Linked DNA regions of Homo sapiens: all the other regions are reported to be linked to region 2. The links are microRNA targets in miRTarBase. Many come from high-throughput screens and were not tested one by one. Region 2 holds a microRNA gene; each other region holds the end of a gene's coding sequence.
Evidence for each region. Region 2 holds the annotated microRNA hsa-miR-5699-5p (UGCCCCAACAAGGAAGGACAAG, at 4,017-4,038, opposite strand). A microRNA usually pairs through its seed, bases 2 to 8, with sites in the 3' UTR of a target mRNA and lowers its output. Matches are read on the target gene's strand: a 7mer-m8 pairs with bases 2 to 8, a 7mer-A1 pairs with bases 2 to 7 and ends in A, and an 8mer does both.

Region 1 (6,177 bases), not on the chromosome of region 2:
CAACATGGTGAAACCCCGTCTCTACTAAAAATACAAAAATTAGCCAGGTGTGATGGCACATGCCTGTAATCCCAGTTACTCGGGAGGCTGAGGAAGGAGAATCGCTTGAACCCAGGAGGTGGAGGTTGCAGTAAGCCGAGGTCATGCCACTGCACTCCAGCCTGCACGACAGGAGCGAGACTCCATCCCAAAAAAAAAAAAAGTTATTTAGATTAAATAAAAAGAGAAACTTAGCTGGGCATGATGGCTCTACACCTGTAAATCCCAACACTTTGGGAGGCCAAGGTGGGAGGATTGCTTGAGGCCGGGAGTTTGAGACCAGCCTGGGGAACATAGCTAGACCCCATCTCTACAAAAATTTAGCTAGGCATGGTGGTGTGCACCTATAGTCACAGCTACCAGGGAGGCTGAGGAGGGAGGATCACTTGAGCCCAGGAGTTTGAGGCTGCAGCGAGTGGTGATTGCACAACTGCACTCTGGCCTGGGTGACAGAGCAAGATCCTGTCTTTTTCTAAAAAAGTGAAAAATAAGAGAAACATAAAACACTAAGGCTAAGAGCTTAGAACCAGAGGTGTTGACAGGGGTAGACTGAGAGTTAATGGAGTGGTTGACGGGCCACTGGATACCACACGAAGCTGGGGCCCAGTGCCCATTTGTCAGAGGAGAACACTGAGGTGTAAGGAAGCTAATCCCCTCTGCCCAGGGGCCTCACAGTCTGGGAGGGGTGATGGGGACTTGGAATCTGAGACTGTCCTAGCACCAAAGGTCAAAGTTTAGAGGGTGGGGGGTGCCGAGCGCCCACTCACCCGTGTCCTTCCCTTGCAGCCCCTGCCCACACCCCCACACCTGCAGGCGGAGCCAGAGAACCACCAGTACCAGGTATGGAGCTGGGAGCTGGGAGGGGTGGTGGGGATCCCACGGATCCAGGAGCCCCGAAGCCGGGGTGGGGAGGGGTCAAGACAACTGAAACTGGGGGCTTTCCTCCCCTCGTCCCCCCAAGCCTCACGGTCTCTGCTCTCGAAGAAGCCCAAACCGCCTCCCTGAGAGACCCTGGCAAGTCCCTTTTCCTCCCAAGGCTGCAATTTCCTTCTTTGCAAAAGGGATCCAAAACCTTGAACTTGCACAGGAGGAACAAGGCCCAGAGAGGGACAGGGGATTGCCTGGGGCCACACAGCCAGTCAGGTCCCCAGTGAAACCCCACCGCAGAGCTCAGTCCCTCTCCATCCCCTCCTGTCAGCTGTCTGTCCCTGTAGTTCTGTCTCTCTCTCTCAGTGGCCTACATATGTCTGTATGTCTGTCTTCCCCTTTCTTGGACTCTCTCTCTCTCTCTCTCTCTCTCTCTCAGTTTCTCTTGCTGTGTCCTTTTTAATCTGTCTTTCTGTTTCCAGTTTGTTCATGCTGCCTTGTCTAAGATGCATCTCTTTACATGTCTTCGTTTCTCTGCATCTCTGTCTCTCTCTCTCTCCATTCTCTGTCTCTCCTGCCTCTTTGTCTCTGTCACTGTGTCCACCTCATTTCTTGGCTCTTCCAGGACCTCTTGTCTCTGCATCTCACTCTCTTTCCACCTTGCTCTTCCATTCTCTCTGCGGGTTTCTCTCCATCTCACGCTGTCTCTCATCCTCTGTCCCTCTCTGTCTCCCCAAGACTCTCCCCCTCCACCCAGTCATAATTCTGTTCTCTCTTCCCCCCAAGCAGGACCTGCTAAACCCCGACCCTGCCCCCTACTGCCAGCTGGTGCCAACTTCCTGATGGGTCCTGGGCCAGGCCAGCCAGGGAGAAGACAAGGCCCCAGCCCTCCTCTGGGAGCCTCACACCTGAGACCAGCAGGACAAGGCCATTGGGGGCTGTGGGGCCGATGAGGTGGACTCAGCCAAAGACTCAGCAGCACATGGGGCAGGTGTCCTGGCAGGGGGACAGGAGACTGTAACAGGCCCAGGTCCTTGTGCAGCCCGTGAATGCACGCCCGCCTTCGGTCTGTTCCTTCAAGCAAGCTGGCCTGGGCCATGTGCCTGTGAAAGGCAGGCTCTGGCCCCTTTCCATGCCAAAGTCCCCCAAGATCTGGATATCTGGGGACAAGATGGTGGCCTCAGGCCTGCCTCCCAGGCAGTTGGCTGGGCTCCCAACTGTCTGTCCTCAATGCCCTACCCCAACTCCACTAGTGACCCTCAGAGTCTTCTCCCCTTAGGACAAGGCAGACACCCCACCATGCGGGCCTCAGGTGGCAGAGAGGCCCAGCCTCACAGGCCTGTGGCCCCACACACCAGTCCCAGCAAGGTGACCACGGCTGCTGGACCCCTTCCCTGTTCAGGCAGGCCCAGCCCCTCTCAGAACCTGCTGCCAGCTGCTGGTCTTGGCCCCCACCCTGAATCTTACTGAGTCCCTCTGGGCAGCAGCTCCCTTCTCCACCCCACCCCAGCACCCGTCCCAAATGTGGCCTCAGCTTGTCCTCCCCTTCCCCAAACTATGCATTCATTCAGCAATAAATGAGCCTTTGCTGTATGCCAGACCCAGTTCTAGGCTCTTGCAGCCCTGGTAGAAAGCAAAACAAAAACTCCCGCTTTCCCAGAGGGTCACTTGGCAGGGGAAAGAATCAGGAAATAAAATAAATAATGAACATGCGTTGTCTGTCAGATGGGGATAAGTGTATTGGGGAAATGGAGGGGGGTCGAGAGTATTGGGGGACTGAGATTTTTAATTAGGGCACAGAGGTCCTCGCTGAGAAGGTGACAAATGAGCAAAGACTTGTAGGAGGGGAAGAAAGGAGCCATGTGGGGCTCTGGAGGAAGAGCATTCCAGACAGAGGGAATAGCCAGTGCAAAGGCCCTGGGGCAGAAGCATGCCTGGCATATTCAAGGAGCAGCAAGGGGGCTGGGCATGGTGGCTCACACCTATAATCCCAGCACTTTGGGAAGCCAAGGCAAGCAGATCATTTGAGGTCAGGGGTTCAAGACCAGCCTGGCCAACATGGTGAAACCCCTTCTCTATTAAAAATACAAAAATTAGCCGGGCATGGTGGTGGGCACCTGTAATCCCAGCAACTGGGGAGGCTGAGGCAGGAAAATCACTTGAACCCGGGAGGCGGAGTTTGCAGTGGGCCAAGATCGTGCCCCTGCACTCCAGCCTGGGTGACAGAGCAAGACTCCACCTCAAAAAAAAAAAAAAAAAAGGAGCAGCAAGGAGGCCAGTGTGGTGGAGAGGGTGGGGAAGGAGGAAAAGGTGGGTGGAAGTTGACGTCAGGAGATGGACGGAGGGGCACATGGCGCAGGGCCAGGTAAGGCACTGCCGAGACTGTGGCTTTGAGGGGCAGGGTGCTGTGAAAGGCGAATAACGGCCCCCCAGTGACGTCTACATCCTAATCCCCTGTGAATGTTACGTTATATGACAAAAGAATGCAGCCATGATTAAGTTCAGGATCGTGCTTTGGGGAGATTATCCTGGATTGCCCTGGCAGGCTCTTTATGTAATCACACAGATCCTTATAATCGAGAAGGACACAGGAAGCGTGAGTCAGAGGGGCTGTGACAACAAAGGAAGCAAAGCCCTTTGAAGACGGGAGAAGGAGCTGAAAGTCAAGCAGCACTTCAGAGTCAGAATGATTGAGTGTGAGAGAGTCCATGGGCCATCGTGAGTGTTGAAGACGGAAGGGGGCCTTGAGCTAAGGAATGCAAGAAACTTCTAGAAGCTGGAGGAGGGCCAAGCTCAGTGGCTCACGCCTGCAGTCCCAGCACTTTGGGAGGCCAAGGTGGGAGGATCGCTTGAGGCCAGGAGTTGGAGACCAGCCTGGGCAACATAGCAAGACCCCGTCTCTACAAAAAAAAAAAAAAAAAAAAACAGAACCGAGGGTGGTGGCTCATGCCTGGAATCCCAGCACTTTGGGAGGCCGAGACAGGGGGATCACCTGAGGTCAGGAGTTCAAGAATCAGCCTGGCCAAGATGGGGAAACCCCGTCTCTACCAAACATAGAAAAATTAGCCAGGCGTGGTGGCGGGTGCCTGTAATGCCAGCTACTGGAGAGGCAGAGGCAGGAGAATCGCTTGAACCCAGGAGGCGGAGGTTGCAGTGAGCCAAGGTTGCACCATTGCACTCCAGCCTGGGTGACAGAGCGAGACTCTGTCTTAAAAAAAAAAAAAAAATCAGAATTGAGGAAAGGCAAGAAAATGGATTTTCTTCCTACAACCTCCAGAAAGCAACACAGTCCCGCTGAAACCTTGGCTTTAGTGCAGTGAGACCCATTTTGGATTCTTGACCTCCAGAACTATAAGATAACAAACTTGTGTTGTTTTAAGCCACTAAATTTGTGGCAATTTTTTACAGGAAATGGGAAACTAATCTAGAGGATGAGGAAGAAATCACAGAAGGAGAAGTTGCGTCTCATGCTGACTCAGTATGCAAATACTCTCTGGGAGACTTCTCCATCCTCAGACCGCTCCAGACACCAAATGCCTGGGCCTTTGACCGCCTTGCTAAGAGGGTCAACCAAGCCAGCCAGGTAGCCAGGGCTCAGGGCTAGGAGTGTGAGGGGATTCCATCTTTTCTCTCTCTTTTTTTTTTTTTCTTTTTTGAGACTTTTCTTTTTTGAGTCTTGCTCTGTCGCCGAGGCTGGAGTGCAGTGGTGCGATCTCAGCTCACTACAACCTACGCCTCCCAGGCTCAAGCAATTCTCCTGCCTCAGCCTACCAAGTAGCTGAACTACAGGTGCACACCACCTCACCCGGCTACTTTTTTTTTTTTTTTTGTATTTTCAGTAGAGACAAGTTTCACCATGCTGGCCAGGCTGGTCTCAAACTCCTGGCTCTGCAGACAGGAGGACTGAAATCCATGGTGGCAGACGCCTATAATCCCAGAACTTTGGGAGACCAAGGCAGACGGATTACTTGAGGTAGGAGTTCAAGGCCAGCCTGGCCAACATGCTGAAATACAGTCTCTACTAAAAATACAAAAATTAGCCGGGAGTGGTGGTAGGTTGAGACAGGAGAATCGCTTGAATCCGGGAGGCAGAGGTTGCATTCAGCCGAGGTCATGCCACTGCACTCCAGCCTGGGCAACAGAGCAACACTCTAGAACAAAACATTGACAGAATTTGTTTCTGGTTTGGATACAGGGGATTGGAGAGAAGAGTGTGCCAATAATTGGTTTGTTCATCAATTCAATGAAGATTTATTGAGCATCTGTTGTGGACAGCCCTATTCTAGGTTCTGGGGAGACAGCCATGAATGAGACAGTGATGGCTGCTTTTGGAGAGCTGACCTTCTAGTGGGAGACAGGCCACAGAAAAACAAAGCACATGGAACATAATGTCAGGGATGACGATGCTGTGAAGGAATGGAGCAGGTGCTAAGAACCTACTGGAACGGGCATGCTTAAGAGGTGCTGGAGAGGGTCAACTCTTGGGTGACTGCTTCGAGCAATGGGAGGGTGGGGAGCAGGGGTGTTGTACACACTGCGACAGGGCCAGGTTTGCAAAAGAAATCAAGACATGGCCACACAAACACTTCTGTGTGACTGTTCACAGCAGCATTATTCACAATAGCCAAAAGGTAGAAATAACCCAAATGCCCATGAACAGACGAATGAGTTCTTTTGTTTATTTGTTTTGTTTTGTTTTTGTTTTTGAGACAGTCTTACTCTGCTGCCCAGACTGGAGTGCAATGGCGCAATCTTGGCTCACTGCAACCTCCACCTCCTGGGTTCAAGCCATTCTCCTTCCTCAGCCTCCGGAGTAGCTGGGACTACAGGCGCCCACCACCACGCTTGGCTAAGTTTTTGTATTTTTAGTAGAGATGGGGTTTCACTGTATTAGCCAGGATGGTCTCGATCGCCTGACCTCGTGATCCGCCCAACTCGGCCTCCCAAAGTGCTGGGATTACAAGCGTGAGCCACCGCGCCCGGCACGGTATTTTTACTGTATCTTTTCTATGTTTAGGTACACGAATATTTATCATTGTGCTACAATTGCCTACAGTTTTCAATGTAGCCACAGGCTATGCAAGTTTGTCACCTAGGAGCAATAGCCTGTACCTATACCCTAGATGTGTAGCGGGCTCTACCATCTAGGTTTGTGTAAACACATTCTGTGATGTTCACACAACAATGAAATCGCCTAAAGACTCATTTCTCAGAACATATCCTCATCATGAAGTGACGCATGGCTGTATTATCCAGTGGAACATTATTCAG
Region 2 (6,177 bases):
CAAGATAAAATCAAAACAAAGAGGTCTTCAGAGGAGTCAATCCACACAGTTCTCCCAAAAGGGCAAGCAATCGATTGCCACCACTTTTTACCCAAGACCCGCTGAGTGCCCTGGTCTGCATGACTGATTCTAAATCACCGTCCTCTCCTCTGCCACTCAGAGGTCAGAGTCAGTCCAGAGCTTAACACCAAGGCAGAGCTGACTGAGAGACACAAGCTCATCCATTAAGACAAGCCAAGACTCCTGCCCAAGGCCTAATCCCTCCACCAGGGAAACGTGGAAGGGCCAGATGCCTGGCAGCCCTTCCTTCCTCTTCTGAAGCCCCCGAGACACAGCCCCGGCCAGGTGTGTGCCTCGGGCAATGCACAGGTAACGTCAGCTGGGCACCGAGTCTGAGAACATGTTCTCAAGTAAAAATGAAAACAGGACTGCTGTGAAAAGCTCATGCTTAATCACCTCTGGGCTAAATTCTAAATGCAATGTTATTTCAGAGCTAGGTGGAAGTAATTCCTTAAAAACATATATGAACAGTAACTAGCAACCAGGGTGATAAGTACTCAGTATGTGTTTGATGAATAAATGAATTTTTAAAATTTATGAAAAGAGCACGCTCTATTTAGGAGAATTCTATTTAATTTGATCTCCTAACTATAAAGTGGCTCCTTCGTGCTGACAGCAGGGTTTGCTTCAGTTGACTCAAAAAATGGTCACTCTAACAGGAAACCAAAAGGCTTTACAGAGAGTCAAATTATGGTGCCAATTCAACTGTGCATGGCAATTTCACCTAAATATTTAAATTCTCGAAGCACCGTACTCAGAAAACAAGACATAACATAAATAAGTGCATCGCCTCAAGCACTATCACCTAGAACTTGACAAAGTTTGACTGTGAGTTTCAAGAAAAGGGCTGACGAGGCCAAGAAGTTCCTTCCCCTCTCCCCTTACCTCCCATTTTGGTGACAAACTTAATGCAGAGAAATTCCTGTTTCAGGTTTGCCAGCATTGGAGCAATCCTGGCATTTATTCACCCAGGACACTAGAAGGCTGAAGTCTGCAGGGTGCACATATTTAAAATCACGGGAGCACTGGAGTAATGGAAAGAGGTGCCCGCGAAGGCATCATCCTTTCCAGGACAGGCTCTAATTCCGCCTCCGGGCCCTTTTGCAAAAAGCCATTTCTACAAACCCACGGCCACCAGGAGGAAACACACAAAAGACCCCACTGCCCTCCTGGCTTCCCAGAAGGCCTCAGAAGGACGAGACACGGAGCCCGCACACAATCCTGGACCCTCCTCCTTGCATTCAGTTTGATGCATGTCACCTGCCTGCATGATGGAGGTCCCACAATGGGCACAAGGGGACCCGTCAGGTCGGGAGGATGCTGCCCGGCTCACAGTCCACACATGGGGACGCGTCAGGTCGGGAGGGTGCTGCCCGGCTCCCGGTCCACACATGTGGACGCGTCAGGCCATCAGGGTGCTGCCCGGCTCACGGTCCACACATGGGGACGCGTCAGGTCGGGGGGTGCTGCCCGGCTCACGGTCCACACGTGGGGACGCGTCAGGTCGGGAGGGTGCTGCCCGGCTCACGGTCCACACGTGGGGATGTGTCAGGTCGGGAGGGTGCTGCCCGGCTCACGGTCCACACATGGGGATGTGTCAGGTCGGGAGAGTGCTGTCCGGCTCACGGTCCACACATGGGGACGCGTCAGGTTGGGAGGGTGCTGCCCGGCTCACGGTCCACACATGGGGATGTGTCAGGCTGTCAGGGTGCTGCCCGGCTCTCAGTATCAGCCGCATATGCACATTCTCCACTGAAGCCACTGCATGAAGCCACGCTGGAAGCACTTTCTGGCAGGTTTAGGAAGCTCACGTCCAAGGTCATTAAACGCATGGCAAGCTCGCCTTGGAGGCATTTTACTTTGCTAATGACAACGAAGCATTCTCATTGCACTGAATAGTTTAGAGCAGTCTTTCATGTCCACTGCCTCTTTGAAATAGGCATATTGTGCCTGTTTTACAGATTACATCAAGGCCCTAATATATTTAGTTCCTTGTCCCAGGTACACACAAATCAGCGACATCACTAGAACGTGTTTTGGACCACGAAAAGAAGGAAAATCACAGCATTATCCATTGATGCTGCTTAAAGCGTATTTCCAGATGTCCCTCCCCCGCCCGGCCTGTATCCAAGGCTTCCGCTGACCACGCGGCATCTGCTGGGCACTCTGCGCGCTTTCTCCCACACCCGCCACGCCTGTGGGCCTGTGCATGTCCCTCCACGCATCCCCACGCGGCTAAATCTCCCACACCCGCCACGCATGTGGGCCTGTGCATGTCCCTCCACGCATCTCCACGCGGCTAAATCTCCCATACCCGCCACGCCTGTGGGCCTGTGCCTGTCCCTCCACGCATCCGCACCTACCACGCGGCTAACACACACCTCCCACAGGTGGCAAGTGCCTGAACGTCCCCACGGCTGGCGGGGCTCCCGGTGCAGGACACACAGACAGGCACGGCCGCCCCGCCCACGGCCACCAAGGGCTTTGCTTTGTCCCCAGAGGTGCCCTTCGATGGGGTCACACGGCAGATGGCCAAGTGTTAGATAATTAAGGCTCAGGAAATCACCGCAGCCTTACCTTTAGAACTCACCTCTCCCCTGCACTTCAACCCGAAGGGTGGGTCGCCAGAGCTGGGGAAGAGATGCCCAAGGCTCCCTTGCGCCCTGACAGCCTCGGACTCTGCTCCCCTCTGTTGGTTTCTTACTGCACCTCAATAAACTTAGCTCACAGCAAGAGGCGGGCATGGCCAGAGTAGAAACACACGACAGACCCCGGGTAGACGCGACGGGGGACGAGGGTGCGTGCCGGGACGAGGGTGCGCGCGGGGAAGAAGCTGCGCGCGGGGATGAGGGTGCGCGCGGGGAAGAGGGTGCGCGCGGGGATGAGGGTGCGCGCGGGGAAGAGGCTGCGCGCGGGGAAGAGGCTGCGCGCGGGGAAGAGGGTGGGCGCCGGGAAGAGGGTGGGCGCCGGGAAGAGGGTGGGCGCCGGGAAGAGGGTGCGCAGGCTCCGAGAACCTGGGGGCAGCAAGGCCGGTCAAGGCTGGAGACTCCAACAGTGGCAGCAGCAAGGGTGTTGGCCAAGCCACAGAGACAGCCCCACCCAGAGGGGCTGCATGAACCAGCAGCGACCCTAACCCAACGTGCTCATCGGACTGGGCACACGCACACGCTGTGGACACGTGTGAATATGTTCCAATTAACGTGATGCTACGTAATAATCAACAACGTTAACCCCATGGCTTCATTACATGGCATCTGGCACATTGAGACTTTTTATTCTGTCTCTCTTCCTATACAAAGAAGTGGAAAATAGGTCCAAGATCATTCACAACAAATTATTGCTAATTGCAAAAAAAAAAAAATCCTACCCTCACCTTGGAAGATCTCAAGGCAACACCTCGTTCTTTGAGGTCATAGTGGGGACGCTCTCCGGACCCCTAGGTGAGTCTGTGACTGAGGGGAATCCCCAAATGGGCAGTTTTGGGGCCAGCACGGACGCCAGCCATGCATCCAGGCAGGTCTTGTGACCTCGGCTGGGTCACCAACCTATTCCTGCACTCAGACCCCGCCAGGAACGAGGGCACCGGCCCGCACATCTCTGCTCCCGAGGCTACATCCCCTACGTTCCTCTGCACTGCTGGGTTCCATGCCTTAGATCCCAGGCACCTTAAAGCTGATGTTCCCCCACCAGCCCTCATGAAGATGATACTCACACAACGCCCCTCCTCTCCCACCTGGTCAGTACCCAGGGAGAAAGGAACCCGGGTGTCAGCTTGATTTTCTGCCAGTACATTGAAAAAACAGCTGGCCAGCAGCACTGGTGCACAGCACTGCCAGGCTACCCATGAGGAAAGCTAAGTAAAGTCAGATGTACTCAAGTCGGCTGCGGCAAGTGCTTCTACATCCCTGCTCCAACAAGGAAAGACAGGAGGCCAGGCGTGTGTGTGGCTCACACCTCTTGTCCTTCCTTGTTGGGGCAGGGGTACAGAAGCATTTTGGGGGGCTGAGGCAGAAGAAATGCTGGAATTCGAGACCAGCCTGGGCAACATAGCAAGACCCCATCTCTACAAAAAAAAATACAAAAATGAGCCAGGTGTGGTAGCGCGCCTGTAGTCCCAGCTACTCAGGGGGCTGAGGTGGGAGGATCACCTGAGCCCAGGAGGCAGAGGTTGCAGGGAGCCAAGATTGCACCACTGCACTCCAGCCTGGGCAACAGGGCGAGACCCTGTATCAAAAAAAGGAAAGAAAGAAAGAAATACAGGAGACCACTAATAATTCCAAATAGTGCCTACTAATTTGAAATCTTTTCCAGATATGATGAAGGAAATTATTTTCCTTCCTACACCCCTTCTAAGGAAACATTTCTATTTTTCTGCTACACAATTTGGTAACCTGCCCTTTCAGATCCTGGCCTCTTTAAGCAGGACTCGCTGGTGTGCTAGCAAAGCAGTGCTCTGAAACCTCAGCATCCTCAGACCCACCTGGAGGGCAGGTGAAGGATGCTGGGCCTCCGCCTCCTAACGTCACACTGGGGTGGGGCAGGTCTGGGGTGGGGCAGGGTTTGCACTTCGAATGCATTCCAGTCTAGGGCCACATCGCCCTAAACACGCCCATCTCATCTAATGCATGCCAGAGGGAGGAGCCACACGGGGCAGGTCACAGAGCAAGTGTCCAGGCACCAGGCCACCAGGTGTCTATTTAAATGCAAACCAATCAAGCAGCTTAAGTCAAACAGCTTCACCCTCCTAACACATTGGCCAACACAACTAGTGATAAATATCACTGCTGTTAGACCTTCTGCTCACTGATGACCAGAGCAAGGGCCTGAAACATCAAAGCTGAAGGGCGTGTGCCACGGTCAGGGCTCCGCACACCCCCGTCCCAGGCCATCGCACACGGGTGCCCTCACCGGCACCGGGGTCTCACAGACCAGCTCCACTCTCACACTTACTGGGACACAACCACCCTTTCAGCCCTTCATGCGTCTGTACCCTACAGCAGTGTTCAAGGGAGGCTAATTTAAGAAAGGAATGTAATATGGACATCTGTGAACTCTTCCTCATATCCACTGAGTGGTCCTCCAGAAAGAGAAAGATTAAAAAGAAAAAGAAGATTTAAGAATCAAACACAGGGCCGGGCACGGTGGCCCACACCTGTAATCTCAGCACTTTGGGAGGCCAAGGTGGGCAGATCACTTGAGGCCAACAGTTTAAGACCAGCCAGACCAACATGGCAAAATCCCGTCTCTACTAAAAATACAAAAATCAGCCAGGCATGGTGGCACATGTCTGTAATCCCAGCTACTTGGGGGCTGAGGCAGGACAACGGCTTGAACCGGGAGGCAGAGATTGCAGTGAGTGGAGGTTGCAGTGACCCAAGATCGCGCCACTGCACTCCAGCCTGGGCAACAGAGTGAGACTCCGTCTCAAAAAAAAAAAAACAGGCCGGGCACGGTGGCTCAGGCCTGTAATCCCAGCACTTTGGGAGGCCAAGGCGGGTGGATCATGATGTCAGAGATCGAGACCATCCTGGCTAACACGGTAAAACCCCGTCTCTACTAAAAATACAAAAAAATTAGCCAGGCGTGGTGGCGGGTACCTATAGTCCCAGCTACTGGGGAGGCTGAGGCAGGAGAATGGCACGAACCCGGGAGGCGGAGCCTGCAGTGAACTGAGATCGCACCACTGCACTCCAGCCTGGGTGACAGAGTGAGACTCCATCTCAAAAAAAAACAAAAACAAAAAACAACACAGAAGCCCGTGGAACAAGCCCTTGCCCCAGTCCACGTCACCTGTGCTGTGCCACCCAGGAGCATGCCAAGCTCAAAGAGTCATCCACCTGCCTTGATGTCACTACTCGAATCACAGAGGCTGAGATTCCCTAACCCTCGTTATGTCCATGTCACTCACAAGCAGGCACTGGGCCCCCACAATGCACAGGGAATCCCTCTGGCCATCCAATGACCATCCATTGATAAATAAAAAGCATTAATTCCAGCTGGGTTGCAGAGTTGCACACATCAATACTTGTTACTGTTCACAAATGTTCCACCTGAGGGTGGAGTGAAGTTACAGAATTGGGAAGAACTTCACAGACGTATGAGGGTGTATTTAAGGAA
Region 3 (4,000 bases), not on the chromosome of region 2:
GGAGAGAGTACCCTTACTTCCAGATGTGCACTCTGACTTCCCTGCTAGAGTTAATTCATCCTGCCTTCTCCAGTGCTCCAATGGGGAAGCCAAGCTGTCTAGGCCTCCAGCACTGCACTGTCACAGCTTCTTTCCCACCACCAACTTGATAGGAAAGTCTTATCCACCCACAACACTGGAGACTTCTGGGGGAGATAAATATGTGTTTTTTTCTGTGTGCTTGGCACACACAGTAGGAGCTTCATAAATGCTTGTGTGATTTAGCAGGGACGCAGAGCTAATCATCTCATTCTCACCCACAGGCCCTGGCTCTGAAAGAAATATCAGAGACAAAAGCCCTTTCCCCTTAGCTTGTTGGCTGAAGCCCAGGGCAGGCAGCATAGGCATCTCAGGCTAGGCAGAGCTACCAGCCTTGCCTAAATGGGGGCAATGTGTTCATCTCAGAAGGCTGGCTTCATAGAGGAAGGGGACCTGCAAGGCTGGAGAGGCCTTCCTGGAAAAGGTGGCAGTGCCAGCTGTTACAGTCTTCTAGGAAATAGTGTTTGCCCTGCCAGCAAGGCAGGGCGTGCAGCAGATAGGTGGGTCCAAGGGAGGGCCTCTACCTTCCGAGGGCAGTAATGCAGATATGCCAAGATATACAGGGTCTGAAGCGCAGCACCCACTGTGTTGACGACGATGAGGATCCCGTCTCCCTTCAAAGCCCCATAACTCAGCCAGCCCAGGTTGCTGCAGGGTGGAGGGGATGGACATGGCTCAAAGGGTTCAGTGTGAGAGGAGGACCCAAAGGGTCTTTCACTCTTTTTTTTTTTTTGAGACGTAGTCTCGCTCTGTCGCCCAGGCTGGAGTGCGGTGGCACGATCTCGGCTCACTGCAAGCTCCGCCTCCTGGGTTCACGCCATTCTCCTGCCTCAGCCTCCCGAGTAGCTGGGACTACAGGCGCCCGGCACCACGCCCGGCTAATTTTTTGTATTTTTAGTAGAGACGGGGTTTCACCGTGTTAGCCAGGATGGTCTGGATCTCCTGACCTCGTGATCCGCCCGTCTCGGCCTCCCAAAGTGCAGGGATTACAGGCGTGAGCCACCGCGCCCGGCCAAACCTCTTTCACTCTTGCTCCTCCTGCCCCGCCCCCACCTCCCTCTGGTAGCCTTTCCCACTACCGCAGCCGTCGGCCCCTCACTTGACTTCCGTGGTGAGAAAGGGCAGGAACTGGACGTTGTCCACACTCCGGGTCATTCGCATGTGCCTGAGGTCCGAGCTGTAATGGGGCCCCGAAGGGAGGGGTGGGGGTGGGAAGGGAGAAGCAGAGTGCTAGAGGGGGATGCCCAATGCCTGTCATCCTTTCCGGACCACCGCAGACCCCGCCCCCTCTCCCCCCCGCCAGCTATCCTGCCTTCTCCTTCAGGCCTAGTGACCAGCCTCGCCCTTGTACCCCGGTCCCCTCGACCCGATCCCACTTTGATCCCGGTTCCGGACGAGCCAGGTGCTGTGGCCACGTCTCTGTCCCCTCTCTCTCCTTTCCTGACTGCCTAGTCCTCCCCAACCCAGCCCGGCCGCACTCTCACAGGCCGGCGGAGAACATGCCAAGGGTGAAGACCACGCATGCTCCGTAAATGAGCGAGTCCAGAAAGCCGCCCGCCTCCATTACGACTAGAGTCGGATCCCGCGCCCAGCGCCCGCCGCGAGCCTGCGGTTGCCGGGACCTACTGCAGCCCAGACCTGCGGCTCTGGAGCCCCGCCCCGCGCACTCGGCTCCGCCCCCGCACGCTCGGGCCGTCCCTCCGGAAACTGCGCCGAAGCCCCACCCTCCCTCCGACGCCGAACCGGAACTCGCGCCCCTCTCCTCCGAGCGCCTTCCCAGTACCCTGGTCCAGACCTCTTCCATGTCCCGGTCAGTCCCCTTCCTAGGGCTCCGCGGGTGTGTCCCCGATACCTGCCGCTGCTCACACTCTGCCTACCCCTTGGATCATCTAGACGCCCCCAGTCTCAACGCTCGTGTTCCCACAGGCCTGTGCGCCTTCGGCGGTGGACCTCCAAACAAAAGCTTGCTAGTTTAACAAGACTTCAGCACGCTTTCCATCCAGAGCTCCACATCAGAACCTCAGTTGCCCAGGGTTTGGGAAGTTTTTTTCTGGAGTGTGCTGCCGAAGCTTTTTCTCAAAATAACACATTACCAGGAATCACCAAGCCTTCCTCTTTTGCCCTCCCTCTCGGGTCAACTTTACATGACGTGGCCAATCCACTGACGCCTCTATCACTGACCCCCGGTCCAACCCACTTGTTACTGGGAACTTTCCCTCCCAGCCTCCCACACGTCTCTGCTAGTGTGGCTGTGGGGCGGGGCCGCATGCCTCAGCTGGCGTTCCCAGCTTCCCTGACTCACCGAAACAGCGTGAGTACCTGAATGGTAGTATGCCAAAGCCCTGCGGTGACGGAGTGGGAGTGGGGTAGAGGTCGGATAGGAAGAACTTCCAGAGTGGAGTGCAGCTCAGAACCCGAGAGACAGCTGTCAGGAGCACTCCGGTCCTGGACAGCCCTCAGAGGAGGAAACATCCCACCCTTTTGGCCTCGTGAGGGGCACACATTCTTTGGAGAGAAAGAAATTCAAACCCAGTTGCTACTGTTGTAGCACAGAGAGCCTCGCACTTAGCAGGGACTCAATGGTCATATGTTTTAATATGGAGTGGCAGAAAAGCATGTCCGAAAAAACACATTGCTTTATTTTGAGACAAAGAACATTGTATAAAAAAACTCCAGTTGTAGAAATCAGGACAGACACACAGCAACTTATATACAGATACTATACACGTGGGCCCTGCCCTTTAGGCTACACTCTAGGCAGAATGTACACATGGGCACTGCCCTTACAGCTACACTCTAAGAACAGGTTGGCACAGCCCCCCTGCTGGCACAGCTCTGGGGAGTGCTGCCCCAGGATGGGAGAGAATGCAGTACCTGGCTACAAACTTCTCTGTGGCAGCTCCACAGATGAGGTCTTGCTGGGAGATGCTGGGTCAGCCCAAGCATGCTGCCTCTCCTGTACCTGGCTTCCAAGCAAGAAACTGTTTCTTGCTTTTCCTTCAGTCAGTTCATCTGGGCATCCTGGCTCTCTCCTGGAGGGGGCATCTTTGACAAGCTTTGCCCATCCACGTGGCCCCTTCCAGCTCAGCTCCCACTGTGCCTTAAGGGACCATGCCTGCACAGCTTGTTTCTTTGGCTTAAAGGCAGGAATGGTGGGAAAGGACTGTCTCCACTTCTTTCTCCATCCCTCCGAGGTGAAGGTGGGGATGGCACTGTCGGGCTGGTTGGCCTCCTTCCGGTTGAAAACCTTAATACTGACCCGTTTTGAGGCTGCTAGGTGATAGCTTATGCCTGTGGTGGGAGTGGTTCCCAGGGCTGGGGGCTCTGAAAGTGGCCCCAAGACAGGTTTGGAGTGCCTGTCCCTCTCTTCAGCCTGTCCCTCTTTAAGGCCAGGTGTGGCATACACCTTCACGGGGTTTGCAGCAGCAGAAGTGGAAGGAGCAGCACAGTCCAGGCAAGTGGGAAGAGGCGTGGGGCAGCACTGTGACCGATGCTATGTAGAACCCGCACCTCTGGGTCATCTGCAAGGTGAGAGGGCAAAGGCCACCAGTGTGAGTGGCTCCACTATTTGTACTGGCTCTCAGCCCAACAGGATTCCCTCAGCCTCAGCCTGGTAAAGGAGCCACCTCCTGTACCCAACCTCTTCAAGCAGACCCCTTCCTGTGCCCCAGGCCCAGTTTGCTCCAGCTACCCACCTGCTGCAAGTCTCTTCTCCTGTGGATTGTCATGGGCCTGAGGACTGTGAGCTGAAAGACAAGAGTGGTAGTAGATCAGGTACTGTATCAAAGAGGCAGAGGGCTGTAAGTATGAGTGGGCTGGGCTGCAAGACTTCTATACCATCCTAGATCACTAGACCGCACCCAGCATAGAGATGGAGGAAGGAGGCCCACAGGGCTCTGACACTCACTGATTTTGCCACTGA
Region 4 (6,177 bases), not on the chromosome of region 2:
GTTTGAACTCTAGCTTGACCATTTTAACAGCTATATGACTTTGAACAACTTACTTAACTTCCGAGCCTCAATTGCTTCATCTAAGAAATAGGAGGATTCAACCTCAGAGGGTTTTGTCAGAATTAAGTGAGGTTTCATGTATGTGAGGCTGCTAGTGTTGTACCTAGAACATGGTAAGCATTCCGTGATTGGTAGGCATTATGATCTGGAAACTCCTGATGTCTTTTGATTAGCTTTGTAGAACTTTTTAGGTACAAAGTATCACTCAGCACTTATTTTTCAGGAAATAATTTAATGGTGAGATTGAGAGCAGCCAATACAAATCCCGCCGTCATAGACCATAGTACACAACACTGTGCTCTTACTAACCTGTTGATCAGTAGTGTTAGAATGAATGAAGAGTATGCCAAAAACAATTACAATGAAAACCTCATATTAAACTAATAGCAAAGTTATGTTTCTAACAAAGCAGGTATCAGGGTGTGTGATGTTAGGGAAAATGAATTACAGCTAGATCCTCTGCTAGCCATCTGAATGTCCTTAGCCATGATTTGATAAAGCCTCTGCTCCTCCCAAATCCCTCTTTTTGCTATTTTTCTTAAAACAAGGTTGGGAATGAAAGGTGCAGTTACAGCAGCCTCCAAAGCACAGCTTGCTGGATATCATGAATACCACGCTCCCATCCCAATCCAGACTACATTCGCCCCTTAGTGACTTTATAAAAGGAATTCGTTTTGTGGCTAGGCTTGTTTAGGAGAACTAGTGTTAATTGAGGCCATGTGCAAAATTAGCCAAAGAAGATTATTCAGAAGTTTGTTTGTTTGTTTGTTTTGTCTGAGAGACAAGGTCTCACTCCATTACCCAGGCTGGCATGCAGTGGTGTGACCACAGTTCACTGCAGCCTCAACCCCCTGGGCTCAAGTGATTCTCCCGCCTCAGCATCCTGAGTAGCTAGGACAACAAAAATAAATATATTTTGAAGTAATAACTGTTACTATTTCATTTAGACTGCTTTGTGAAAAAGCTAGAAAAAAATGCAGGATTAATAAATAATCTCACACTCTGTGTTGTGATTTTAATGCAAAACTGAAAACAGGTAGATTGATCTAATATTGTACTTAATTTTAGTCTTTTAGTATAACATCAAAAAGATCCATCTGAAACTACATATGCATTCTAGAATATATATGAATTCTAAAGCATATAACAGGTGTATCCCCACATTAATATTTTTTGAAAACAAAAGCATGCAAGTGGGTTTTTAAAAATTGCAAAATGAAGTAAAAAGTAAAAGCTTCTTTCCCACCTACCCTCCTGTCCTCCCTCCCTCCCTTCCTTCCCTGCATTCTCCTTCCCTCCCTCCCCCGCCAGTCTTACTGACTTCTTGTATGGCCCTTCAGGAAATGTTTTTGTGTGTATGTTAGTATATCAGCATCAGCATCAACATTCATTGCTATTTAAAGCAGGTTTTTAAATTTATACAAGAAAAGAAAGCAGGAAAAACATGAGAATTAAACCAAAAAATTCTAAGGTAGAAAATGTGAATGTTTAGTTAATTTAGTAACACATTACAAAAATTCAAAAGTATTTACATTGAAAGAACCACATTACAAAAATTCTAAAGTGTTTTAAATTGGAAGACTTAGAATAAAAGAAATATTTGAGACAACAATTTTAACAAAATGTCTTTTGTGTCACCGCTAGCTTCAGGCTGATGCAATCAACGCTTTTGGAGAATCACTACAAAAGAAACTTCTGGACATTGAAGGATTATATTCAAAAGTTCGATCTCGATATAGTTTCATACAGGCTCTTGTCAGACGTATCCGTGGCCTCTTGAGGATATCAAGGAACTGAGAGCCCGTGCTTATGCTCTTCTATGAGAGAGATGAATTGGGGAGAATTGTCTCCATTTTATAGATTAGTTTCTTTCTAAATTATGACCAAAAATATTTTGCTATTTCTTTCTTTGTATATGGACATCTTTTCTGTAAACTTCTTCCCCTAGTTCCATCCTCACTAGTAAAAAATAAATACTTTTTAAAAAAACAAAACAAATGTATGGTTAATCTTTTGATCTTTTATCTTTTGATCAGCATTATCAGGAATCTAACAAATAAACCTTCAACAGTGGTGATTTTCCCATAGAGATATTATTCTGAATGCCAGATTAAAGGCATAGTCTGAAAATTCTAATTTTTTCACCCTTTGTAGCTACATTACACTATTAACAATATTCAGGGTTACTAAAATATAGCCATGCTCTTATAGAATAGTGTACTCAATACTGTGAAAATGTCTGAAAAAGTCAAGCTTTTTCCTAAAATTATTTAGGTTTTCCTTTTTTTTGTTTTTTTCTTTTCTGCACGTAAGTTGACAATACAATTGTCCCTTGGTATCTGGTGATTACTGGTTCTAGGGCTCCCACGGATACCAAAACCTATGTTTTGGCATGCATGTTCCTTATATAAAATGGCATTGTGTTTGCATATAATATAGATACATCTTCTTGTATACTTTAAATCATTTCTAGATTACTTACAATACCTAATATAATATGAATTCTATATAAATAGTGGTTAATACTACGTTTTTAAATTTGTATTATTTTTTGCTGTTACACTGGTTTTTTCCCCCCCAAATATTTGTGATCTGTGGTTGGTTGAATCTGCAGATTTTGAACGTGGGGATATGGAGAGCTGACTCTACAGTAATTTGTGTTTGTTCCTTAGAAATGATTGTGAAATTTCTCAAATTAATCATCTGCCAATATTTCTCATATAATTAATATGATGGCTATCACTAGGACAAAACATTTACATGATCACCACTCTATTTCTTACCCAGTTGTTTTCATGTTCAAGTAACTACATCATCCGAAACTGCAAATTTCCTTTTCCAGACAGCAATTACTTCAGCCTAATACATAGGAGAGACTGCTGAGAGGAAGTCTTTGCTTTCATTTAGTAACAGAATAAACGCTATAACACTATAGAATAAAATTGATAATTATTCTATAGTGTCATAGTGTTTTTTTGTTTTGTTTTGTTTTTTGTTTTGTTTTTGAGAAAGAGTCTTGCTCTGTCACCAGGCTGGAGTACAGTGGCATGATCTCGATTCAGCACAACCTCTGCCTTCCAGGTTCAAGCGATTCTTCTGCCTCAGCCTCCCGAGTAGCTGGGACTCCAGGTGTGCGCCACCACACCCAGCTAATTTTTGTATTTTTAGTAGACACGGGGTTTCACCATGTTGGCCAGGATGGTCTCAATCTCCTGACCTTGTGATTCGCTCACCTTGGCCTCCCAAAGTGCTGGGATTACAGGCGTGAGTCTCCGCGCCCAGCCTAGTGTTGTTGTTGTTGTTTTTAAATGCTTACAATAAAACTTCTATGGCTTCCAAGCGTTGGTTTTTGGGTTTTGTGGTTTTTTTTTTTTTTTTTTTTTTGGTGATAGGGTCTTACTCTGTCACCCAGGCTGGAGTGCAGTGGCATGATCGTGGCTCACTGCAACCTCCACCTCCCGGACTCAAGTGACTTTCCTGCCTGCGCCTCCCGAGTAGCTAGATTACAGGCGTGTGCTACCATGCCCAGCTAATGTATTTTTAGTAGAGACGGGGTTTCACCATGTTGGCCAGGCTGGTCTCAAACTCCTGGCCTCAAGGGATCTGCCTGCCTCAGCCTCCCAAAGTGCTGGGATTACAGGCATGAGCCACTGCATCTGGCCTTCAAGCATCTTTAAAACATCTTTATCTTAGAGGAAGTTATGCTGTCAGGTTTAAAAAAAGAAAAATATAAAGGCTTTGTCAGTGTTATATTTTGTAATTAATTTACCGCCCACCAGATATAAACATTAGCTGGAAAACATTCTGTTAATAAATAAAAGTCCTGGATGTGAAAGAATAAATAAATGGATCCAAAATGTAGTTACAGTGCATAGTGCTCCACTGGTCAGGCATATGGTTATCTCTGTCATCTGGAGCACAGGTATGAACCTAGAAATGATTAGCAAAGAGCCTAGGCGTGAAATCAAAGCATTTTATAAACTTCTGAAGTATGAAGCCTTCTTAACAGACAAGACATATAGCTAAATTTTGAACTGGGATTTTAGGAGTGAGGAGGTGGTTCTTGCCTGTGTTTTATGTGAGTGAGAGCAAGTGAGTGTGTGTGTGTAGGCAGGGGAACTCTGCTTCTTGTCAGTGACTTCCTCAGATTCCTCTATCCCTCCGCCTCCCCGACTACTGCTGCTGCAGTGGCTGCTCCCTGGGTTGTAGGAAGTGAGTGATAATGATGACGTCGGGGTGGAGAGTGACAAGCAACAACAGAGATTTCAATCTGCGGCTGACGAATGGGCCCATCATAATGCACTGGAATGAAATCGTAGGGACCACATCAAAGGCAGCCTCCAGTTTGTGGGACGCAGTCCCAACACTCCAAGGAGAGAAGGCCATAGAGTATATCCAGCATATGCGAAGGGAAAAACCACACGCCACTGAGATATTGATGACCTCAGCGGCAGAATGCTCTTCTGAAGGAGGAAGTCCGTGCACCGAAGGGGAGGTCAAGTGCCCAGCCACAGGCCAACTATCCCTCCTCAGACAGCATCCTCTACACCAATGCCAAGGGCAGCACCACCTCTGCCTTTGATGGGGGCTCCGACTGCAGCTCAGAGTTGGAGCCTGAAGAGGCCTGAAGTAGGAAGAAACTCCAGATGGAGGCCAGCTGAGTTACTCAGGGCAGGCCAGCAATAAACACTGTCTCCATCATCCTCCTTTCCGTTTCCTCAGAACCATTTGAGAGACTATTTTTCTCTTTCTCCCTTAAAAATTGTTTTTTAAATTTTTATGTAAAAGCTCTTGGGGCCTGGCACAGTGGCTCACGCCTGTAATCCCAGCACTTTGGGAGGCTGAGGCGGGCAGATCAGTTGAAGTCAGGAGTTCGAGACCAGCCTGGCCAACATGGTGAAACCCTGTCTCTACTAAAATTACAAAAATTAGCCTGGCGTGGTGGTGCACGCCTGTAATCCTGGCTACTCCGGAGGCTGAGGCAGGATAATTGCTTGAGCCCAGGATATGGAGGTTGCGGTGAGCCTAGATGGCACCACTGCACTCCAGCCCCCTCCCTACCCCACCCCCCCAAAAAAGCTCTTGTCCTCCTTCCCCATTTCTACTATAACTTAAAAAAAAAAAAAAGTGTTCCCTTCAGGGATTCCCTGTCTCCACCAAGAATTTTTAGACCAAAACACCCTAGCTTGGCAGCTTTTTCTGTGGAGGACAGATGGCCAGCCTGACCTCTGAGCACAGTATCCTGCCCACTCCACCAGCTCCTGCAGCCCTGCCCAGGCACATGCCTGGAGGACACCTGCCCCACCCAGGCTGCCTCCAGGTCCATGCTCACCTCTGTTTAACAGACTTTGAGAATCTGTGAACTGCTCTTAAGAAGATGACTTTAAGAAGATGACTGGGCCGGGCATGGTGGCTCACGCCTGTAATCCCAGCACTTTGGGAGACAGAGGCGGGCGGATCACCTGAGGTCAGGAGTTCAAAACCAGCCTGGCCAACATGGCAAAACCCTGTCTCTACTGAAAAATGCAAAAGTTACCCGGGCGTGGTGGTACGTGCCTGTAGTCCCAACTACTCAGGAGGCTGAGGCAGGGGAATCGCCTGAACCCGGGAGGCGGAGGTTGCAGTGAGTTGAGATTGTGCCACTGCACTCCAGCCGGGGTGACAGAGCGAGACTCTATCTCAAAAAAAAAAAAAAAAAAAAAAAAGATGACTGGTTTGGAGTAATCAGATTTACACTTTCTCCTTTTTAAAGACTTTCTTCTCTTTTTCTAAAAAGCTATTTATCCCTCCAATTGAGTGACCAGATCCTTAAAGAAGTTTGTGGTGTAAAAAAAAGAGGGGTCGTGTTTGCAGCACAGAACCTTTGGCGTGTTTCTCTCCTGCTTCTCAGCCAATTGTTTAAGCCTACGGTGCCAGCCTTAAGGAGGGCTGCATGACACCTGTGGTATGTATTGGAGATGGCAGCAGTGAAGTCGCAGCCACCAGGGAGTGGTCCTTTGGGGTTGGGTAGGGAGGGCAATATTGGGTGATGTAGAGGTTTTGTACTGAGGGCCAATGATGGTGTTTCGATATTTATTTCCTGCTACTGAAATTTGAATCTGAGTGAGTTGTCCCTAT
Region 5 (6,177 bases), not on the chromosome of region 2:
CCAGGATGCCTGGAGGTCTCAGAGCCCACCACATCCTTAGGGACGAGGGAACAGAGCAGGATGCACACGTCGGGGTGGTGTGACCTGTAAGTCCTCTCCCGAAGCTTGGAGGGGCTCTGGAAGAGGCCTCACACGGAAATGCCTGGGGCTTAAGAGGCCCCTGGTGCAGCTGCTCTCCTCCCCTGCAGGCAGCCCGCACTGGGGCTGGAGGATCCAGTCACTCAAGGCGGTGGGTTCTAGCTGAAAAGGGACCTTCTGGGTCAGGCTGCAGAACTCCTCAAATGCCCATTTCCTCAGTGGTCAGAGAGGGCAGGCGGCGGGTGGATGCCTGGAGGCCAGCTGACGTGAGGCACCAAGGACATCGTGAGAGGGACAAAGTGATTCTGCCTGCAAGGGGCCCAGCGTGTCTGGCTGTGTGACCACCATAGGGGACCACCCAGTACAGCCCACCTTTCACACCAGCTCAGCCCAGGGACCCATCACGCCCTGCTGGGGAAGAGCTTTCACAGGGACTAAGGAAAACTGCCCACAGATATCGTCGGAAAAGAAACACAATGGGTCTAACAGTAAACAGATGTTCTAGGGGGAGCTGGTTCTGCGGTGGGCTCACTTTGGGTAAATTCACCGAGCTACGTGCTCACGATCTGTGCGCTTTCTTTGTGTGTATTCTTTGTGCTTCATCTACAAAGTTTACCTTAAAAAAAAAAAGTGCCTTGTGTCTACCGAAGGAGATGGGAGGGCAGAAGCTACTCTTCTCTGTCGAGTAGTGAGAGAAAACTCAACGTACTGTGGGGCAAACGCCCATCACACTCCCACCTCAGCCTCTGGGACGGTCGGCGGCACAAAGAAGCCTGCACTAGCAGCTGCTGGGATCACACAGCCAGAGGAAGATGAAAGAGAAGCGATCGATAGCAGAGGAGGTATGGGACGGGAGAAAGCAACGTGAGCATCTTTAAAGACTGAGGAAACACACACACACACACACACACACGGGCGCCAGGCTAGCCACACACACACACACACACACACACGGGCACCAGGCTAGCCAGACACACACACACACAGGCGCCAGGCTAGCCAGACACACACACACACACACACACACACACACACAGGCTAACCAGACACACACAGGCTAGCCAGACACAAACACACACACACACACACAGGCTAACCAGACACACACAGGCTAGCCAGACACACACACACGGGCACCAGGCTAGCCACGGGTCCCAGGCTAGCCAGACACACACACACACACGGGCACCAGGCTAGCCATGGTTGCCAGGCTAGCCAGACACACACACACACACGGGCGCCAGGCTAGCCACACACACACACACAGGCTAGCCAGACACACACACACACACACAGGCTAACCAGACACACACAGGCTAGCCAGACACACACACACACACACACGGGCGCCAGGCTAGCCACGGGTGCCAGGCTAGCCAGACACACACACACACACACGGGCACCAGGCTAGCCAGACACACACACACACACACACACACACACACACACACACACACACACACACACACACACACACACACACACGGGCGCCAGGCTAGCCAGAAGAGCTTCCTCTGCTAAGAATGAGCCCGAGTGCTCTTGAGAAGCCATTCCCAGACCAGGCAGGTAGGGAGGTCGACCATATAAAGTAGTAAGACTAAGACTTCCCTCTCCTCCCCGTGAATGAGGGAATGGGGGCACCCCAGCCCAGTTAGGACGGGCCAGGGCCATCTCTGGCTGAGCCGCCCCTCCCTGCCACCGCTCCACAAGAGCTCTGGAGAATTTGCGTTTCCCAGCGCCTTGTTTGAAAAATAAACACCAACCTGGCGCGGTGGCTCACGCCTGTAATCCCAGCACTTTGGGAGGCCGAGGCGGGCGGATCACTTGAGGTCAGGAGCTTAAGACCAGCCTCGATGGGGGTGAAACCAAGTCTCTACTAAAAATACAGAAATTAGCCGGGCGTGGTGGTGGGCACCTGTAATCCCAGCTACTGGGGAGGCTGAGGCAGGAGAATCGCTGGAACCCGGGAGGCAGCGGTTGCAGTGACCCGAGATCGCGCCATTGCACTCCAGCCTGGGCGACAGAGCGAGACTCCCTCTCAAAATAAATAAATAATGAAAAACAAACACGAGTTCAGCCTGGGCAACATGGTGAGACCCCGTCTCAAAACAAACAAACAAACAAACTTGCTTGCCTTCCTCAAGCAGGGCCTTCCCCTCTCATTTGGGAAGAGCCTACGATTCCGTTTTTTGCCCTTTCCTGCAAACCGGGACAACTGCGAAGGGCCCACAGCCAGGCCCGGGCCGCCGACCGCCCTTGCACAGGGTCCACAGGGGCCCAGGTCGGCGCGGGCCCGGGGGCGGCCCCACTTCTGGGAGGAGAAAGCAGCGGCGCCGCGGGCGGGAGTGCGGAGCCCCCAGCCCAGGCCCGGAGCCGCAGGGGCGCTGCCCGAGGTCCCGCCGCGCGCCGCCCACCCCCCCTGCTCACCGGGTGCTTCCGGGGCCGCGCGCTCGGGCGGCGGGGTCCGGATGGGGTTGGGGACCCCGATGGGCGGGCCCGGGCAGACGACGGCGCTCGCTGCCTCCAGCCCCGCCGCGGGACCCGAGCCCCACTTCCGCCGGCTCCGCGCGTTGCCGCGCGACGGTCCGGCCCCCAAAGGCGCCCGGGCTGCCCGCCCGCCCGCCCGACCCGAGCGTTCCGCGGCGCAGCGTGCCCGCCCAGTCCCCAGGCCCGGACCTCCCGAGCCTGCCTCCGGGCCGCCAGCCCCGCGTCAGCTCGGTTTCCTCACCTGAGAAACTGACTGGACCTGGCCTTCGTGGAACCCGGACCCCGCCTGGCTCCCAGCCTCCCCAAGTGAACAGGTCCCCAGGCCCTGCGGGATTCCAGGAAGGCCCCAGCCCCAGCCCGGTCCCGCCCCCGTCACTCTGTTGTCTGCAGAGGGGCCGCCCCCAGATCCCCAAGGCCAGTGGTGCCGGGAATTTTGAGCCCTGGTAGGACCAGCCCAGAGGCTGCCGCCAGCGATCGTCAGGAGAGAACACACAGGCGTCCAGCCCCTCCCGATCCCAGGAACAAGACCCCAGCCCAGACCTCAGCGGCAACTCCGTTTATTGAGCACCTAACTACATTGCGCAGTTAGTCCCCCACCCACAGGACCCAGACATATGAGGGACCTCTCAGGGGGGATGTCCTGTGATACAGGGGAGCCCCACCTCCCCACCCCACAGGGGTAGAGCCAGACACCGTCCCCTCCCAGCTCCCTCCCCCATACAGGCCCTTCCCTGGACCCCAGACCCACGGAGTAACCCAGACGCCTCTCCTTTCACGCCTCATTTCCCCACTTGTAAAATGGGAGGAGAGGGTTAGACCCCTATTTTTTCTCAGTTTTCCAAAGCAGCAGGAGTCTCTCCTTGTAGGAAGCTCCCCCAGACCCTCCCAGCACGGCTGCACTGGGAGGACAAACAGCATGGAGCTGTTTGTCCCTGTCTGCAGAATGAAGGCCCAGACAGCTTTCATTCATGGGGACGCGGAAGAAAAGGCATCCAGGGTTCAGCCAGCCATGGGCCTCCAGACACTCCAGGGTTGCCTCCCCCTTACCTCTGCCAGGCCCAGAGAAGCTACTGGAGGCTCAGGACTCTAGGTCCCTCTGAGGTTGGGGACATTTAGGGGCCACACCCCTGCCCCAGGCCGCCCCGCCCAGCCCAGCCCAGCCACACCCTCCCTGCCTGTCTGCCCCCGATTAGGAGGCCTGGGCAGGGGCACCTGGTGGGAGAGTCTGCCTAGCTGTGTGCCGGCAGCTGGCCCAGGATCTCAAGGCTTCAGCTGCCAGCCCCAAAGTCCAGGCACAGGGCCTGAGGGGGTGTGGGGGGCATGAATGCAGGGGCCAGGGCACTGAATGGGGACAGCAGAGAGCAGCCCTGGCTGGGGAGGCTGCAGGCCTGGCAGGGGCAGCCTGGGAAGCAGACTCAGGGCTGCTCCTGAGATCCGGAGCCTCACCAGCAGGAGAACTCGAGCCAAGCCCAGGGCCCAGCCCAGGTGGTGCTGGCATCAGGCAGGCAATGCCCATAGCCTGGAGGCTCCACCCATCCTGAGGGTTCCTCCCGCGGTGATCCAAGGGCCTGGGAGCTGGCCTCAGGCACAGGAGGGCTGCTCCAACCCAGCCTCAGGTCAGGCCAGCTCCTTGAGGCCCTGGTACACCTTGATGGAGTTGTCCTTGGCATCAGCCACCAGGAGCTGGCCCTGGGGTGCACAGGCCACTCCCAAGGGCTGCCCAAGCCCCTCTGACACCAGGCAGATGGGTGGCCCAGCCCGGGGAAACAGGGTCACCTGGCGCCTCTGCTCGTCTGCCACAATAACATTGCCCTCTGAGTTGGAGCAGATGCCCGCTGGGCAGCCGAAAGTGTGCCCCGTCCAGCCCCCCAGGGAGCCCAGGGGTTGGCGGGCACTGCCAAACAGCCTCACATCCCCAAACTCCTCACTCACAGCAAGGCCCCCATCAGGCCCTGGGCCCACCCAGCAGGGGCCCTCCAGACCCAGCATGGAGGCTGGGGCCAGGGGCTCCCAAGCAGGACCCAACGAGAAGCTGTGCACAGCCCCAGGCAAGTAGTCCGTCACCAGGAGGCGGTTGAGGGCATCCACAGCCAGCCCTCGGGGAGACAGGAAGGTGCCCACTGTCACCCAGTGGCCCCCGGGGTCCCGGGCTGTGTGCTGGAGTGCATGGACAGCCCCATGGATGGGATCGCTGACCACCACAAGCCCTGACGCTGTCACAGCCACGTCCTCTGGAACGAAGGCCCCGCTCCCCGGAGTGCGGCAGGGCAGGAGGCAGATGGGGCGTCCCTCCAGATCTAGCACGTGGACACAGGGTGCAGCCCCGGCCGTGAGGAAGAGCAGGCCATCGGGGGAGCAGTGCAGGCCCCGGGGCCCTCCCACAGCCCCTGCGGGCACCCGGATCCACCCAAGCAGCCGGAGCTGCCGGGAGCCCGTGGAGTCTCCAGGTGGGTCCAGTGTGAGGTGCAGACACCTGGAGGCCAGAGTCCAGTCAGTCCGAATCACCGTCTCAGCTTCTCTGCAGCTGGGTCACGCTTGGGGCTGCAAGAGAGAGAATAAGGCCCCACTGTGTGTGGGAATGGCAAAGTCACTCCTCCAGTTTCTTCCTATGAGGCCGGGTCCTCCTGGTCCTGAGGGTCTACCTGGCCACCAAGCCCAGCGGCCACCCTAGTGTCTAGGTGCCTGGGACTTGAGTCTGGGAGACACATGACCCGTGGAGCTCGCTGTGGGTTTTCCCCTGAGCCCCAGATGAGCTCATGGGCCTCAGACAGATAAGCAACATTTCTCAAATCCATCTGCCTGTGGAACCCCTTTCTACGGCGGGGGGGCGGTCACCCACACACAGCCCTTCTACCCGAGCCCCTAGGTCAGGGAGACTTCTGACCCCTTAGGGGCGAGGCAGCCTATTCCGAGGGCCTCCACCTGCCCCACCGAGAGAGGCCGGGGGGAGGGGTCTCTTACCTGGGCCCTGTCTCGCTGGGCCCTGCTTCGGGGCTGGGTGGCTGCAGCCTCTGTTGTTGGAAACTAGAACTGGAGGAAGTGGGAGGAGCCACTGGCAGGGACGCAGCTGGGCCGGGTGGAGGAGGGAGAGTGCAGTCTCCGGCCTTGGCCCCTGAAGCTTCTATGAAAGAAAAACCAGGTCCCCTGAGGACTCCCCATGCTGTGGTGTTCCTGCCTCCGCGCCTTGTTGCAGGCTGCGCCCTCTGCCCGGACACTATTCCCACGTCCCCTACACGGCCAGATGCCATGCAGCCCACCCCCCTCCAGGGGTCCCCCATGGTCCCCCCACAACCAGCAAGTTCATTACTCCAAGTGGCAAGGCAGCCCCAGGCTGCCACCCCCAAGCAGGGTCCTTGGGTCTGGACCACAGGCGGGTGACCTGCTGGCTGAGGCACCCTCCATGAGGCCTGTCCTGCTCCCCACGGGTGACAGCGAAGGAGGTCGTGTCTCCACACCTGGGAGACGGGTGCTGTTGCCCCCAGCAAGGCCATGCTCACCTGTCTGCTCAGTGGGGGTGAGAAACTGAGGTGCAGTGGACATATGGGGTGCAGTGGACATATGGGGGGCGGGGGCTGAGGACAGGGAGTCTCCCTCAGACTCGGGACTTGGGA

Region 1: the mRNA of CEACAM19 is a reported target of hsa-miR-5699-5p. Seed matches in the 3' UTR shown: 7mer-A1 at 1,890-1,896.
Region 3: the mRNA of EFNA1 is a reported target of hsa-miR-5699-5p. Seed matches in the 3' UTR shown: 7mer-m8 at 3,412-3,418 and 7mer-A1 at 2,925-2,931.
Region 4: miRTarBase lists NUP205 as a target of hsa-miR-5699-5p. The part of its 3' UTR that is shown has no 7-base or 8-base seed match.
Region 5: miRTarBase lists NHLRC4 as a target of hsa-miR-5699-5p. Seed matches in the 3' UTR shown: 7mer-m8 at 3,845-3,851 and 7mer-A1 at 3,695-3,701.

Annotation. Positions count from the first base shown.
Region 1 is chr19:44,681,742-44,687,918 of GRCh38, forward strand. It overlaps CEACAM19 (CEA cell adhesion molecule 19), which reads left to right. Exons shown (of 8, transcript NM_001127893.3): 7 at 826-879; 8 at 1,696-2,614. The coding sequence ends at 1,749. It overlaps LOC107985306 (a long non-coding RNA gene), which reads left to right and starts at 3,297. Exons shown (of 3, transcript XR_007067268.1): 1 at 3,297-4,489; 2 at 5,102-6,177. RefSeq lists an enhancer at 3,356-3,650.
Region 2 is chr10:637,732-643,908 of GRCh38, forward strand. It overlaps MIR5699 (microRNA 5699), which reads right to left and starts at 4,047; the gene lies at 3,958-4,047. All of the region lies in intron 1 of DIP2C (disco interacting protein 2 homolog C), which reads right to left. LOC124902361 reads right to left here. Exons shown (of 1, transcript XM_047426106.1): 1 at 1-6,177. RefSeq lists an enhancer at 1,991-2,897.
Region 3 is chr1:155,133,554-155,137,553 of GRCh38, reverse strand. EFNA1 (ephrin A1) reads right to left here. Exons shown (of 5, transcript NM_004428.3): 3 at 3,986-4,000; 4 at 3,774-3,824; 5 at 2,655-3,599. The coding sequence ends at 3,487. It overlaps SLC50A1 (solute carrier family 50 member 1), which reads right to left and starts at 1,702. Exons shown (of 6, transcript NM_018845.4): 1 at 1,563-1,702; 2 at 1,178-1,255; 3 at 603-726. The coding sequence starts at 1,642. RefSeq lists a silencer at 1,662-1,901 and an enhancer at 2,172-2,261.
Region 4 is chr7:135,646,700-135,652,876 of GRCh38, forward strand. NUP205 (nucleoporin 205) reads left to right here. Exons shown (of 43, transcript NM_015135.3): 43 at 1,705-2,054. The coding sequence ends at 1,857. It also overlaps the pseudogene LOC124901801 and the pseudogene LOC101027084. Among named protein-coding and RNA genes, the nearest start is that of STMP1, 13 kb to the right of the region's middle.
Region 5 is chr16:566,426-572,602 of GRCh38, reverse strand. It overlaps NHLRC4 (NHL repeat containing 4), which reads right to left and starts at 5,598. Exons shown (of 2, transcript NM_001301159.2): 1 at 5,528-5,598; 2 at 3,108-5,132. The coding sequence starts at 4,555. The coding sequence ends at 4,184. PIGQ (phosphatidylinositol glycan anchor biosynthesis class Q) reads right to left here and starts at 2,635. Exons shown (of 11, transcript NM_004204.5): 1 at 2,507-2,635. RefSeq lists enhancers at 794-1,688, 5,274-5,323, 5,272-6,167 and silencers at 2,319-2,538, 2,609-2,768.